Linked DNA regions of Homo sapiens: all the other regions are linked to region 1. The links come from fine-mapping of genetic effects on gene expression. A gene starts in region 1. Each other region holds a variant in brackets. All regions are shown on one strand. Distances are from middle to middle. Region 1 holds the start of DOCK2 (dedicator of cytokinesis 2). Region 2 overlaps DOCK2 (dedicator of cytokinesis 2). Region 3 overlaps DOCK2 (dedicator of cytokinesis 2).

What was found. PIP is the estimated chance that this variant, and not a neighbour inherited with it, causes the effect.
Region 2: its variant is the best candidate, but not a certain one, in a credible set for the expression of DOCK2 in whole blood (TOPMed, PIP 0.60).
Region 3: its variant is the best candidate, but not a certain one, in a credible set for the expression of DOCK2 in whole blood (INTERVAL, PIP 0.86).

Annotation. Positions count from the first base shown.
Region 1 is chr5:169,634,899-169,639,073 of GRCh38, forward strand. It overlaps DOCK2 (dedicator of cytokinesis 2), which reads left to right and starts at 2,377. Exons shown (of 52, transcript NM_004946.3): 1 at 2,377-2,471. The coding sequence starts at 2,429. RefSeq lists silencers at 2,245-2,724, 2,755-2,814 and an enhancer at 3,075-3,174.
Region 2 is chr5:170,033,986-170,038,262 of GRCh38, forward strand. DOCK2 (dedicator of cytokinesis 2) reads left to right here. Exons shown (of 52, transcript NM_004946.3): 35 at 414-570; 36 at 2,530-2,570. Among named protein-coding and RNA genes, the nearest start is that of MIR378E, 7.6 kb to the left of the region's middle. The variant G/T (reference allele first, on the strand shown) is at 2,477.
Region 3 is chr5:169,927,761-169,932,037 of GRCh38, forward strand. All of the region lies in intron 27 of DOCK2 (dedicator of cytokinesis 2), which reads left to right. All of the region lies in intron 1 of INSYN2B (inhibitory synaptic factor family member 2B), which reads right to left. Among named protein-coding and RNA genes, the nearest start is that of INSYN2B, 51 kb to the right of the region's middle. The variant T/C (reference allele first, on the strand shown) is at 2,476.

The DNA of each region.
Region 1 (4,175 bases):
ATTTAAAGCTTATGATTATTAATTGTAATATTCACCATCAGGTACTTTGTGGAAAATATCTAAATCTGTGATGTTATTGAATCAGTGGTATCAAAGGTTAATTTTATTAGCTTTTCTGGACTTTTAACCATTGCCCATTTGGTAAACATTTTTTTCAGAAATAGAAAGTAAATATCCTGTCAGATCAGCATTAACATATGAATATTTGAATCAATTTCGATAAGGCACATTAACTTTGAACTCCAATAAGGTGAAATGTGATATCATTCCCAAAATGTATTTTTTTTTGCCTTACTAAGCTAGTATTACAAAAAATACTCATTCACATGATATTTTGAATTTTATTAATAAAAAAAATTTAGAACCTTTTTTCTTTCTTTACATAAGTACCTGCATCCTACATATATACTTGATTTTGCTTTCTGGACTGCAAAGACTAAAATACTATCTGTGACTTTACAGAAAATGTTTGGCATCCTCTATTGTATAGTCCCAATTTATAACATTGTTGTGATAGCTAGTTTTGTGAGTCAACTTGGCAAGGCTATGGCCCAGTTATTCAATCAAATACCAATCTTCACAATCTTCACAGGGGTTGCTGTGAAGTACTTTGTAGATGTGATTAACATCTACCATACATTGAATTTAATTAAGGGAGATTATCCTCAATACATTTGGTTGGTGTGATCCAATTAGTTGACAAACCTTATGAATAGAACTGAGGTTCCTTGAAAAAGAAGAAATTCCTCCTGAGGACATCTGCCTGTGAGTTTCCAAACTGCTCTTCCTGACAGCCCCACAATCGCATTAGCCAATCCCCAATCTCTCTCTGTCTCTCATATACATATATATGTATGTGTATATATATATATATATATATGCATATATGTATGTGTATATATATATGCATATATGTATGTGTATATATATGCATATATGTATGTGTATATATATGCATATATGTATGTATGTATGTGTATATATATATGCATATATGTATGTATGTATATATATGTATGCATATATATAAAATCTCCTACTCTGGTCATCTGGTGGAACCCTAATACCACTGCTGACTGTATAAGACATTATTACCTAATTTGTGCTGCTAGAAAACAGAAAAGAAAATAACTGCAGATAAAACAAAATCAATAATTTTTTGTTGCTCCAGTTCAGCTGTGATATTGCCTAATCTATCTTAATGACTCTCCAGTGTAAGGCAGAAAGGGGTAGTGAGAGTCATGAATAAAGAAAGAAAACTCAGCAAAACTTAAATTCAGCCTTATCACTGTGGATCAGACTTTTTTTTTTTTTTTTTGGACAGAATCTGTTCTCAGAGCAAAAATGAGATTTTTCGAGGAAATGTCTCCATTAGCCTAACTCTAGGGCTCTTTTCCTGGGTCCCACTGTTGCTGGCTGTGACAGCACCCTTCACCTTGCAGTGATGTTGGTAAATAGTGTATTTACGTATTTTCAGAGTAGAGCTTCTAGAGCTTACATCAGATTTTCCAACGGGTTTGTAGCACCAAAACGATAAAAAGCTGTAAATGGGCCAGGCACGGTGGCTCACACCTGTAATCCCAGCACTTTGGGAGGCTGAGGCTGGCGGATCACCTGAGGTGGGGAGTTCGAGACCAGCATGACCAACATGGAGAAACCACGTTTCTACTGAAAATGCAAAGTTAGCCGGGCATGCTGGTGCATGCCTGTAATCCCAGCTACTGGGAAGGCTGAGACAGGAGAGTCGCTTGAACTCGGGAGGCGGAGGTCGCGGTGAGCCGCGATCGCGTCGTTGCACTCCAGCCTGGGCAGCAAGAGAGAAACTCGAAACTCCGTCTCACAAAAAAAAAAAAAAAAGGCTGTAAAGGATCCACCTCCAGGTAAACATTTACTCTTCCATGTCACCTGCTGTGTACATTGTCTCTCTAACCCTCACAATAATCATATGAAGTAGGTATTAGTATCCCATTTCACAGATGAGAAAACTGAAGCTTAGAAAAATGAAGTCATTTGTCCCCGTCTGGATTCGAACCGAGATCTGACACCAAAGCTCATGCTGAGGGGAGTTAAGGAGGTTTGTTCAGTCCCTAGGCACGGCAATCAGGAAACTCTCTGCACTTGCGGTGGTGGTCTGGCGAGCCCCAGGTGGGGACTGGCCTCTGCTCCCTCGCCTGGGGAGGAGACAAAGTGGGAGTGGTCCCCAAGTTTTGCGTGAAGTGGGGTGGGGTGGCGTGTCTTAGCCTACGGGGCACCAGCCTTCTAGTGTGCCCCTGCCCAACGGGAGGGAGGAGGGAGCGGGGAGCCCCGGCGAGGGAGGAGAGGGCGGGCCCTGAGAGGAGTTTGAAAAGAGGAAGGAAGTGGGGCCCTGCGGCGCCCAGCCACCCCCTGACGGCTTCCCCACGGGAGGACGCGAGGCCCCGGCCCAGCCATGGCCCCCTGGCGCAAAGCTGACAAGGAGCGGCACGGCGTGGGTAGGTGCGGGCCCCAGGGCGCGGCAGGGAGCGGGACAGGTGGCGGGAGAGCCGCGAGCAGGAGGATGCTGCGGGGCCGGCGGCGCGGGGTGGGCAGGGCGCGCTGCCTGCAGGTCAGAGGGCGCAGCCTGCGGCGGGGCCTCGGGGCGGGAAAGCCGAGGCTCGGGGAGAGGACGGCGGGACCCCACCCCGCAGGCTAAGCACAGCCCTCGCCCTCTCGCCTGCTGAGGGAACCTTAGACATTTCCGAGATAGGGTCAAGACCTGCGCTTGACAACTCAGTTCTTCGCGCCAAACTCGGCGTCCCCAGGAGTGCCCCAGCTCGCCGCGTGGGAGACTTGGCCTTGTAGAGGGAGCTCCACTCTCCCCTGGCTCAGCCTTGGCCTGCCCACCATGCATACTTCCACCCCCTCCAAAGCGACACCCATTTGCCTGCTTCCCCTGTCTGTTCCTCCTGGGTCAGATGACTCCTGATTTGGCAGGGCATCCAGAGGGCAGCTCAAGCTTGGGGGAATGGGGCTGGACGGTGGGGTTCTCTACTCAGCCCCCCAGAGCCTCTGGGGAAAAAGGCTCCCGCCAGGTGGTCTTAGGGTAACCAAGAAGCTAGCTTCGTCAGCCTCAGCCATCTAAACTCCCAGAAGCCTCTGCCTGGAGCTCAGGGGCGGAAGTGGTGGCTGGGGGAAGGGAGGCCTCAGGTGCTGCTACTCTAAGTGTCATCCGTGGTGCAATCTCCATGGACTCACTGTGGTTTTTAAACTTAAATATCAAATAAAAAGTCACTCTGGAGCTTCCTACACAGGCGGATACCAGACACCATCTCAGAGATAAATATTTCGCAGGTGAGGCATTGGAAGACCCAAACACCCAGAGGGATTTGATGCAGGGGGTCCCCAGGCCACTGTTTGGGAAACACTGCCCTGGAGAGATCAGCAGTTATCCACTCAATTACTGGGTACCGGGCACTGTGGGGTCATTTTGATATAAATGGTCCCCATCCAGAGAACAAATAATAATTCATATCTCAAGGGGCAGTTACAAAGTAAGGAAGGATACAGCTTCTGCCCTTGAGGAGTTATGTGTAAGGCTAGAGGCTTGGACTGGGAAGTCAGAACTGAGTTCAAATCAGGGTCTGTTTCCTCGTCTATAAAGTGGAAGTAATAATAATGCAGGTCTCATGAGACTCTTGTGAGGATTGAATGGGGTTATGCATGGAAAGCATTTAGTAGTGTGCTGGCTCAATAAGAGTTAGTGATTCAGGTCCAGGGTCTTACCTAGCAGCTTCAGAACCAAGAGACACCAGCACCAAGATGCACCCTAATGCCAGATTCAGGACAGTCATGCCTTATGAGACTGTAGTATTTCATGGTTTGCAAGACCAAAGGTCATGCAATCTCTGTCTGACTTCAGAACCCCCATGTGAGGCAGTGTATTATTCCCAACTTACAGGTGAAGTAACCAAGTTTACATCACTTGGAAGCAATGGAGCGGGCCTTAAATTCAATTGTCTTCAGACCCTAGGCCCTTTGCATGGCACCAGAAAAGCATCTAGAAGGGGAACATCATGGGTAAAGGCAGGGAACTGGCATCCCTGAAGTGTGTGGGTCAAACAATAAGTAGTCTGTTTTGGTTTTAGTATTGCTTTTAGTGTTAAAAAAATTTCAGAGGTAGATTATGGCTAGATTGTGAAGGGCTTTGAGTGCCAACC
Region 2 (4,277 bases), 400 kb after region 1:
GAGTATTATATCTTTGCATACTTCTGAGAATATTTCTGTAGAACAGATTCTGCAAAGTAGAGTTGTGGGGTCAGAGGATATGTGCATTTACAATTTTTACAGATACTTTGAAAATTGCTTCCCCAAAAAAGTTTTCTTGATTTATTCTCAGCAGGGGTGGGTAAAAGTGACCATCTCCCCCACCATCATTATCTATATTGGAAACTATTTTATTTTTATTTTTTCCCATTCTGATGTTAGAAAAAAAATTGCTGCACTATATGGATAAATACATGAATAAATGAACAAAAGGAGCAGTCAGGGAACTTGGGTTGACTGACTGATTTTGCATGTGCTCCATCCCACCGCCCACTGGCCCCAGCACAGTCTTTCTCCCCAGCCATGAGCTCACTGCCCTCTGGTCTCTGCCGCAGCCTGATGGAATGTGCTGCAGAGCACCCAACCATTGCCAAGTCGGTGGAGAACTTCGTGAACCTGGTCAAAGGCCTCCTGGAGAAGCTGCTGGATTACCGGGGTGTGATGACAGATGAGAGCAAAGACAACCGCATGAGCTGCACCGTGAACCTGCTGGTGCGTGGGGCTGGCGGGTCCAAGTCAGACCAGAACCCTGTGGGGGGGCTTGGGCTTGGCTTTGGGTCTCACGATTGTTCTTCATAGGGAAGCAGTGCTTAAGGGCTTTGGAAAGCAGACAAATGTGGAATGGAACGTCTGCTGCGCTTTCTGCTAGCTTTGTGTCTTGAGGCCGTCACTTCACCTTTCTATGCCTGCCTCCTTATTTATAACATGAGATTAATGCATATTCCCTTTAGCACTCAACACATCACATGGAAGGAAGATGACAGTATAGACTGGCTAAGAGTATGAGCTTTGGAGTCACACAGCCTCTGGGTTTCCATCCTATATCTGATAATTAATGGGATGGACAAGCTAAGGAAATGTTCTGAAGTCTTAGTTTGCTTATCTATTACATGGAGAAAATAATGGTTCCAATTTCATTAGGTTGTGTTGCCCTGGCCCATGGTTAAATGCTCACTACGTATTAGTTTCCTTCTTCTTATAGAATGGAGTCACACTAATAACTAGAATTGCTGTTACTATGAACCAGGTTAACCAGAGAAGCTAACCCCAGACCCAAGTTCTTAACCCCTATATTCCATGAGCTCCCATGGGCTGGCTGCCAAGCAGCCTCTCTCACACGCTCTGTGATTCGACCAGGAGACAGGTAGGTAAGCAGCCATAATGCTTCATATTCACCGTGTCATCCCACCTTAAAGTGGTTTAAAAGAATGAAGTTGACCAAAAGGCCACGTGACATCCATCACATCAACCTCCCTACCATTCCCAAGGCTCCTGAAACACAAAACCTGTCCCCAGAGCTCTGTTGTGTGGCCTCCCTTTACCCTAAATAGACTTTTTTTTTCAACAGCCTAGATATTGCCATTGATTTTCTAGAATGCCAAGGAGAGTTTAAAAATCCCGATGACAGCAGAAAGGAATTCATTGCTAATAACTCCACCAGGCCCAGTTTACATAAAGATCATGAAGAGGTGTTTTCCACGAGCTGAGCAGCTTCTCTCTAAGGAGAGACAGAGTTGGTTGAGGAAAGTGACCTTTAACAGCCAGCTAAGATCAGGGAGAATGCTTGGGACAGACAGTTCTCCAAGCACTGAGACACCACTAGTTTTTAGTGCATTGCTTAAATATGGTGTCAAGGAGGAGGGTGGGGATGGAGGTGGTATCAGGACAAATGATGTCCAGTATGATTTGCCACCCATTGACTGTGTGCTCTGGAACATGTCACCACCCTTCTCTGACCCTCAGGTGCACGTGGGTGTGCTGCATTAAACCAGGATATACACCTGGTGTGGCTCATGGATTGGACCAGGACCACCTGGCTCAGAATCTGTAGGGACTTGTTTAAAAAATGCCACAGGATTAGGATCTCTGGTGGTGAAGTCCAGGGCAGCTACTAATCTAAATGGCCCCTGAGCTGGAATAGGGACCTAGATTCCTACGTATTGCCAAGTTTAAATGTTTTGGCGACAGAATCCCATATAATTCCTGATAGTTCTGCACTATCAGGAATTCTGATCTCTTACTATTACCGAGGTGCTACCACTCACTTTCCAACTCAGGTTCTTTCCAGTGCAAGGCCTGAGCTTTGAAACATCAAGCTGGGCTGCCTTTCAATGTGGGCCTGGTTAAAGTAGACTACCCCAGTCTTGGCAGCCCACCTCTCAATGCAGCAAAACACTGAACTGCCCCTCCTGATATGTGATGGCTGAGACACATCAAGTCCTCTCTGTTCCTTTATAGTCTAAGGGTCAGGGAAGTGACTTTCAAAGCAGAATCTTCCAATTAGGCTGTTTGATGCATCTTTGGGGCATCCAGGAAAATAAGTTTCTTATTCCTATCTCAGGGTACCCAGATACTAGACAGCAATCTTCCTCTCATCTTCATCACCACACCCTTGACC[G/T]CTGTGATATTGCAGAGAACAACACTCATCATTGTTTTTCCTCCCCTACCTAGAATTTCTACAAAGATAACAACAGGGAGGAGATGTACATAAGGTAAGATTCATATTTTCTAAAATCCAGACCTGCTGTGTCACTTTCCTGCTCAGTATCCATCGATGGCTCCCTGCTGCCTTCAGGATAAAATTTAAACTTCTCTTCTTGACATTCAGGCCCTCTGTGTTCTGATTCCTGTCAATTTCTCCAGATTCAATTCCTTTCATTCTCCCACAGTCAGCCCCATAAAACCACGTGAAATCGTCTGGCCTTCCATGCTGTCCTGTTGTTCCCACAGATCATATTTTCCTTAAGAGTGAATACTTTGTGATTTGAACTGTTGGGGTGCATTTGCATTGTTGCGGGCCTGACCTTGGATAAATTACTGTGAAGCCTGAGTCCAGACATGTAGTAAGACCATTGACTAGCCCAGTTTTGAAGGGAAAAAAAAGATACTAAGATGCATGATATCTGCATCCTTGTAGGCATTTAAATGATATTATTTGAATATATCATGAAGGTTTTTTGGGGACATTAGCCTGAAGCAAAGAACTCCTTTGCCAGTTTTTCTCAGAATCTCATATTTTTTTCTGCAATTTAAAAATTATTGTTACTTTTATTTATAATAAAAAATATATACTTATTACAAAACAAAAATAAACTTATAAAATATGGGCAAGCAACACAACAAATGAAATAAATTCCCATAATCCATACATATTTCCAGGACTTTTTTATATTTATATATACATTGAATTCTATGCATGCATATTTTTTGCAAAAATGGGTTTATATTACTTGTAATTTATTCTTTGCTTTTTCTAACTTGACAAGAACTCCATGTTGACAGATGTATATCAACATCATTTTTAATGAAACTATAAAATTTTTTCCAGAATATATCATCATTTATATAGCCAATCCTATATTGTTGAACATTTAGATTGTTTCCAACTTTTTCTACAATAAAAAGCACAAAAACAAATTTTTTTTTTTTTTTTTTTTTTAAAGACAGAGTTTCGCTCTTGTTGCCCAGGCTGGAGTGCAGTGGTGCCTATTCAGCTCACTGCAACCTCTGCCTCCCGGGTTCAAGTGATTCTCCTGCCTCAGCCTCCCGAGTAGCTGAGACTACAGGCCTGCACCACCACACCTGGCTAATTTTGTATTTTTAGTAGAGACGGGGTTTCACCATGTTGGCCAGGCTGGTCTCGAACTCCCAACCTCAGGTGATCCACCCACCTTGGCCTCTCAAAGTGCTGGGATTACAGGCGTGAGCCACTGCGTCCGGCCACAACAACAAAATTCTTGGACGTATACCTTTATGCACATCCTTATGAGGCTGGAGCCCTTGAGGTAGAGTCAACCAGAAGATTGAGGAGCAAGGTATTTACAGGGCTTTTGTCACATTCTGTCAGAGGGCAGAAACTTCAAGTCTACGCTCACTCTGCTATTACGGCAGATATATCTAGGTACCTAGTTTAGCATTACTCCAGAAATAGGAGCTATCATTTGGAGAAAAATAATTTTATAGGTTGTCCTGAGTTTGGGATATTTATAACATCACTAGTCATACCTTATTGTAGCAGCACAAAGCTTTGGGGTCTGAAGGACCTCGGTCCTTGCCTCACTTTTTCTGTAACCTTGGATAAATTACTCAATCTTTCTGGGTTGAGGTTTTCCTACCTGTAGAATGTTTCCGTCCTACCTTCTGTTTTGAGGATTAAATGAAGTACTATAGGTAATATGGCTGCCACATGGTTTCCTCCC
Region 3 (4,277 bases), 290 kb after region 1:
CGCCCGCCACCACGCCTGGCTAATTTTTTGTATTTTTAGTAGAGATGGGGTTTCACTGTGTTAGCCAGGATGGTCTCAATCTCCTGACCTCATGATCCACCCGTCTCGGCCTCCCAAAGTGCTGGGATTACAGGCATGAGACACTGCTCCCGGCCCGAAAAATTCTTTATTCAGGGCTGGATGATGAGATGGTATAACCAGCAGGAATCTTCCTTGGGTTTCAGTAGGTGTGGGAATTAACTCACAGATCCATGTGTGTGTATGCATTTTTTCTTAAACAGGTGGTAGAGAGGGTACAAATATCAGGGAGAAAGTCCACAGAAGCAGGATAAGATACTGTCAACCTGGGGTTCCTTCAGGCCTTCCCAGCCAAACCCTTCCCCCTGCAACTCAGGATCAGCCACCTCATTGACTTGCCCCACCCAAGGCCAAACCAATATTGACAGCAGCCTCAATGCACCAGCAGGAGGGGTCTACAGTTATTGCTGCCACAGGTCTTACACCAGATGGCCCTCGGTGGGCCAGCCTGTTCTTGCCCAGTCTGTTCTTGCCCTGTTCTGACCAGTGGCAGTGCTGCCTTACCAGGGATGCCCTATCTCCACCTGAATGAACCAGGTCTGGGTTTGCACTGCTCTGCCCCAGAATGCCCCGCTGTTTTCACGTAGTCAGGCAGGTTCCCCAGCCTTAGTTCTACCAGAGCCAGCCTCCTCGCTTCCCCATGCATCAGTGCTGCTGAGAGTGAATCCAAGTTACGGGAGTAACCTTGCTGAGCAGGAGGCCAAAACCAGTGAGTGACATGAAGCATCGTCCATCCAAAAGAGAGGCCAAGAAAGCATGGAAAGGACAGTGTCATGGAGGCCTAGCAGGAGACAAACTTTTAAAAGAGGCAGAGAGATCTAAATACATCCAAACTGTTGAAGCGTAAAGCATTAGAAAAAAATATGATTTCTCAACAAGTTATGACACCTTCATAGAGAACAGTTATACAGGAATGAGTGGGTGGAAGAAAATAGCAACCACAGCCCAATAATGCAGATCTAATGTTATTAGGTTAAATACTACACAAGTAATTACTCAGTGATGAAAATTATTAATTGTGCACATGATGCTCACTCTATGCCCTGGGTGTTTCTGTTCCTGCTTGAATAGTGGAATAATTAGCAGATAACTGCGCTATTAATTATGCCAAAGCTTGCTTTGAGATAGACTAAAAGGCCAAACATGTAGGATGAGGAGGAGCTATGTGTTCTGTTCATCTTTGTGCCCTGAGAAGAGCAGATGGAAAGCTTGAGGTCAACCTGGGCCCACAGCTGGCCAGGTAGACTGAAGTTCTGTCATGCCCTGCCTTGAAAGGGAACCAGAGTGCCTATGCAGGAAGCCCACGCACATAGCACTTAGGCATAGCAGGGGGTTAAAGGTGTTTTCAAGTTCAAGTCATGACACATTTATAAGCCAAAGCCCCAAGGGCCAGTATTTTCCAATCTCTTCCTCCACCATCCTTGGCCATATGGTAAACATTTCTCTTTCCTTTCCCCATTGACACCAACAAGTTCATCTCACATGGGTAAGACTCAGACAAATCCCATAGCTTTTTACACGTAGATTTTCCACAAAGCGAATCCCGGCAAACGATATACAGAACTCCTAGCTTATCTTGCCATGGGATGAGATAAGATGGTAAGAAGTCATCCTGTGGCCAGGTGTGGTGGCTTATGCCTGTCATCCCAGCACTTTGGAAGGCTGAGGGGGGAGGATTGCTTGAGCCCAGTAGTTTGAAAACAGCCTGGGCAACATGATGAAACCTTGTCTCTAACAACAACAACAACAACAAAATTAGCTGAGTGTGGTGGCACATGCCTGTAGTCCCTGCTACTCGGAGGCTGAGGCAGGAGAATCACTCAAGCCTGGGATATGGAGGTCACAGTGAGCCAAGAGGGGATCACTGCACTCCAGCCTGGGCAACAGAGTGAGACCCTGTCTCAAAAAAAAAAAAAAAAAAAAAGAGAGAGAGAGAAAGAAGCTATCCTGCTGGAGTCTGAAAGCTTGACCTAGCACTTTCCTATAGACCCTTATATGAGGATAGAAATCTTGTTTTGTGCTCCTTGTTTTGTGCTCCAATATGGTAGCCACTAGCCACACATGCCTGTTAAACATATGCATATTAAACATATTAAACATTGAAATAGGGCTAATGTGACTGAAGAATAGAACTTTATTTGTTTATTTATTTATTTATTTTGTTTATTTTTGAGACAGAATCTTGCTCTGTCACCAGGCTGGAGTGCAGTGGCACGATCTCAGCTCACTGCAATCTCTGCCTCCTGGGTTCCGGTGATTCCCCTGCCTCAGCCTCCCGAGTAGCTGGGACTACAGGTGCATTCCACCATGCCCAGCTAATTTTTTGCATTTTAGTAGAGATGGGGGTTTCACCATGTTGGCTAGGATGGTCTCAATCTCCTGACCTTGTGATCCGCC[T/C]GCCTCGGCCTCCCAAAGTGCTGGGATTACAGGCTTGAGCCACCGCACCTGGCCTAATTTAAATTTAAATAACCACATATGGGTGATGGTTAAAGCAGGACTTCAGAAGACACTCTGGCTTTAGTTCTCCTTATGCACTCACGACTGGGGTTGTCTGGGCTCGAGGGACCTCAGAGCCTCTTAGGGTAATGTGTGTCCTCTGGGATGACATTTCTTGGACAATTTCCCTTCTCCTCTGAAATGTGAGCTTCATTCATGGTAAATGAGTAAAAATCTGCCTGGAATTACTTACAAGGGTGAAGAATGAACATATTAACAGGCTATAGATAATAAGAAAGTCCTTTAAAAATGAATGTGGTGGCTGCCAAATCAATTTGTGCAAAATAACGGTAGACAAGGATGAGCTGCGGCTGACAGGGAGCAATTAAGTTTTGTAATTTTACCTTGAATTATTAATTTCAAGAAGGGTTGCTTCTCTCACTGCAGTCTACATCTTCGCCCTTTGAGAGTCGGGTGGAAGGCACTGTGGGTGAGCCTCCATTTCCAGGTTGTTGAGAAACCATCTCTCTTGGTTTCTTTTCTTATGCTTTCAGCTCTTCATTGGGGGTTGCACTTCATTTTCTTCTCACATTCACAACAAATTAGCCATACACATAAATACAATAAAGGATACCTGTCCCAAGGAAAAGCATCCTCATCACATGTCATGGGCCAGTCCCTTTTACAAGGTGCTCCTGCACAGCCATGGCAGGTACTCATGTGTGTGCCAGACAGAGGGGAGTTTCTAAGCTAGGAAAAGTGGATTTGTGGGAAGTTGTTTTCCTCCAGGTAAAGATAAAGTGGCTTTGCTTGACTGGTTGACTCATTGGCCAAACTAATGATGCTACTAACACCCTTGATCTTAGGATTAAGCATTGTCTGGGATATTTTGAGTCATGAAAGTTACCTTCCTACAGAGCCCAGCTCTAGGAAACCATCTTACAAATACATGTGCATCCCAAAGACGACCAGGAGAGTGAGGAAGGCTTGGCTCAACCCAGCCCAGTTGCTGACAAAGCCATCAAAGTACAGGTCTTACTTCCAACAGTGGGTCAGTGGGAAGAACACAAACACCAGCGTCTCTCAAAGGGCTTGCCTTGATATTGCCGCCTCTCGGCAATTGAACACTTCTCCCGTTCGCCTGAACCCTCAGACTTCTTTGAAGAAACTCTTTCCACCTATCCAAGTGCACTAAGTTCCTGGCATATAAAATTAGATGTGGTTATTTTATGAGGTGGTATCGTTTTGTGGAAAGTTGTTTTGGGGTGGGAGGTCAGACCAATTCGGGTTTTAATTTCATTTCAGTTACTTATTCGCTGTTTGACTTTGGCAAACTGACACAAGATCTCTGAGCCTGCTTCCTTGTCTGTGAAACTGGGCTAATGCTGCTGTGTGAGATGGTGGTGAGGGTTATAAGTGAGGAAGGTGAAGTTCCTAGCACAGTAGCTCACATGGGAGAAGGTGGCTGGCACTGTGCTTCCAGGAGATGGAAGCACAGCCAAGTGGCCCAGAGGACAATTCCCAGCTAGCCCCAGAAATAACAGGAATCCTTCCTCCAGGGATCATAGCCTTCTGAACTGCTTCCCTCCTGCCTGCCCTTCTCTATGTTCCTCTTTCTTCACTGTGGGTCAGGGAAAATATCATGCATTCATTCACTCATTCATGTATTCAACAAATACCTCTGGAGCCTGCTGCCTGCCAGGAACTGCTCTAGGTGCTAGGAATACAGCCATAAGCCCAACAGAGTCCTGACCTCATGATGC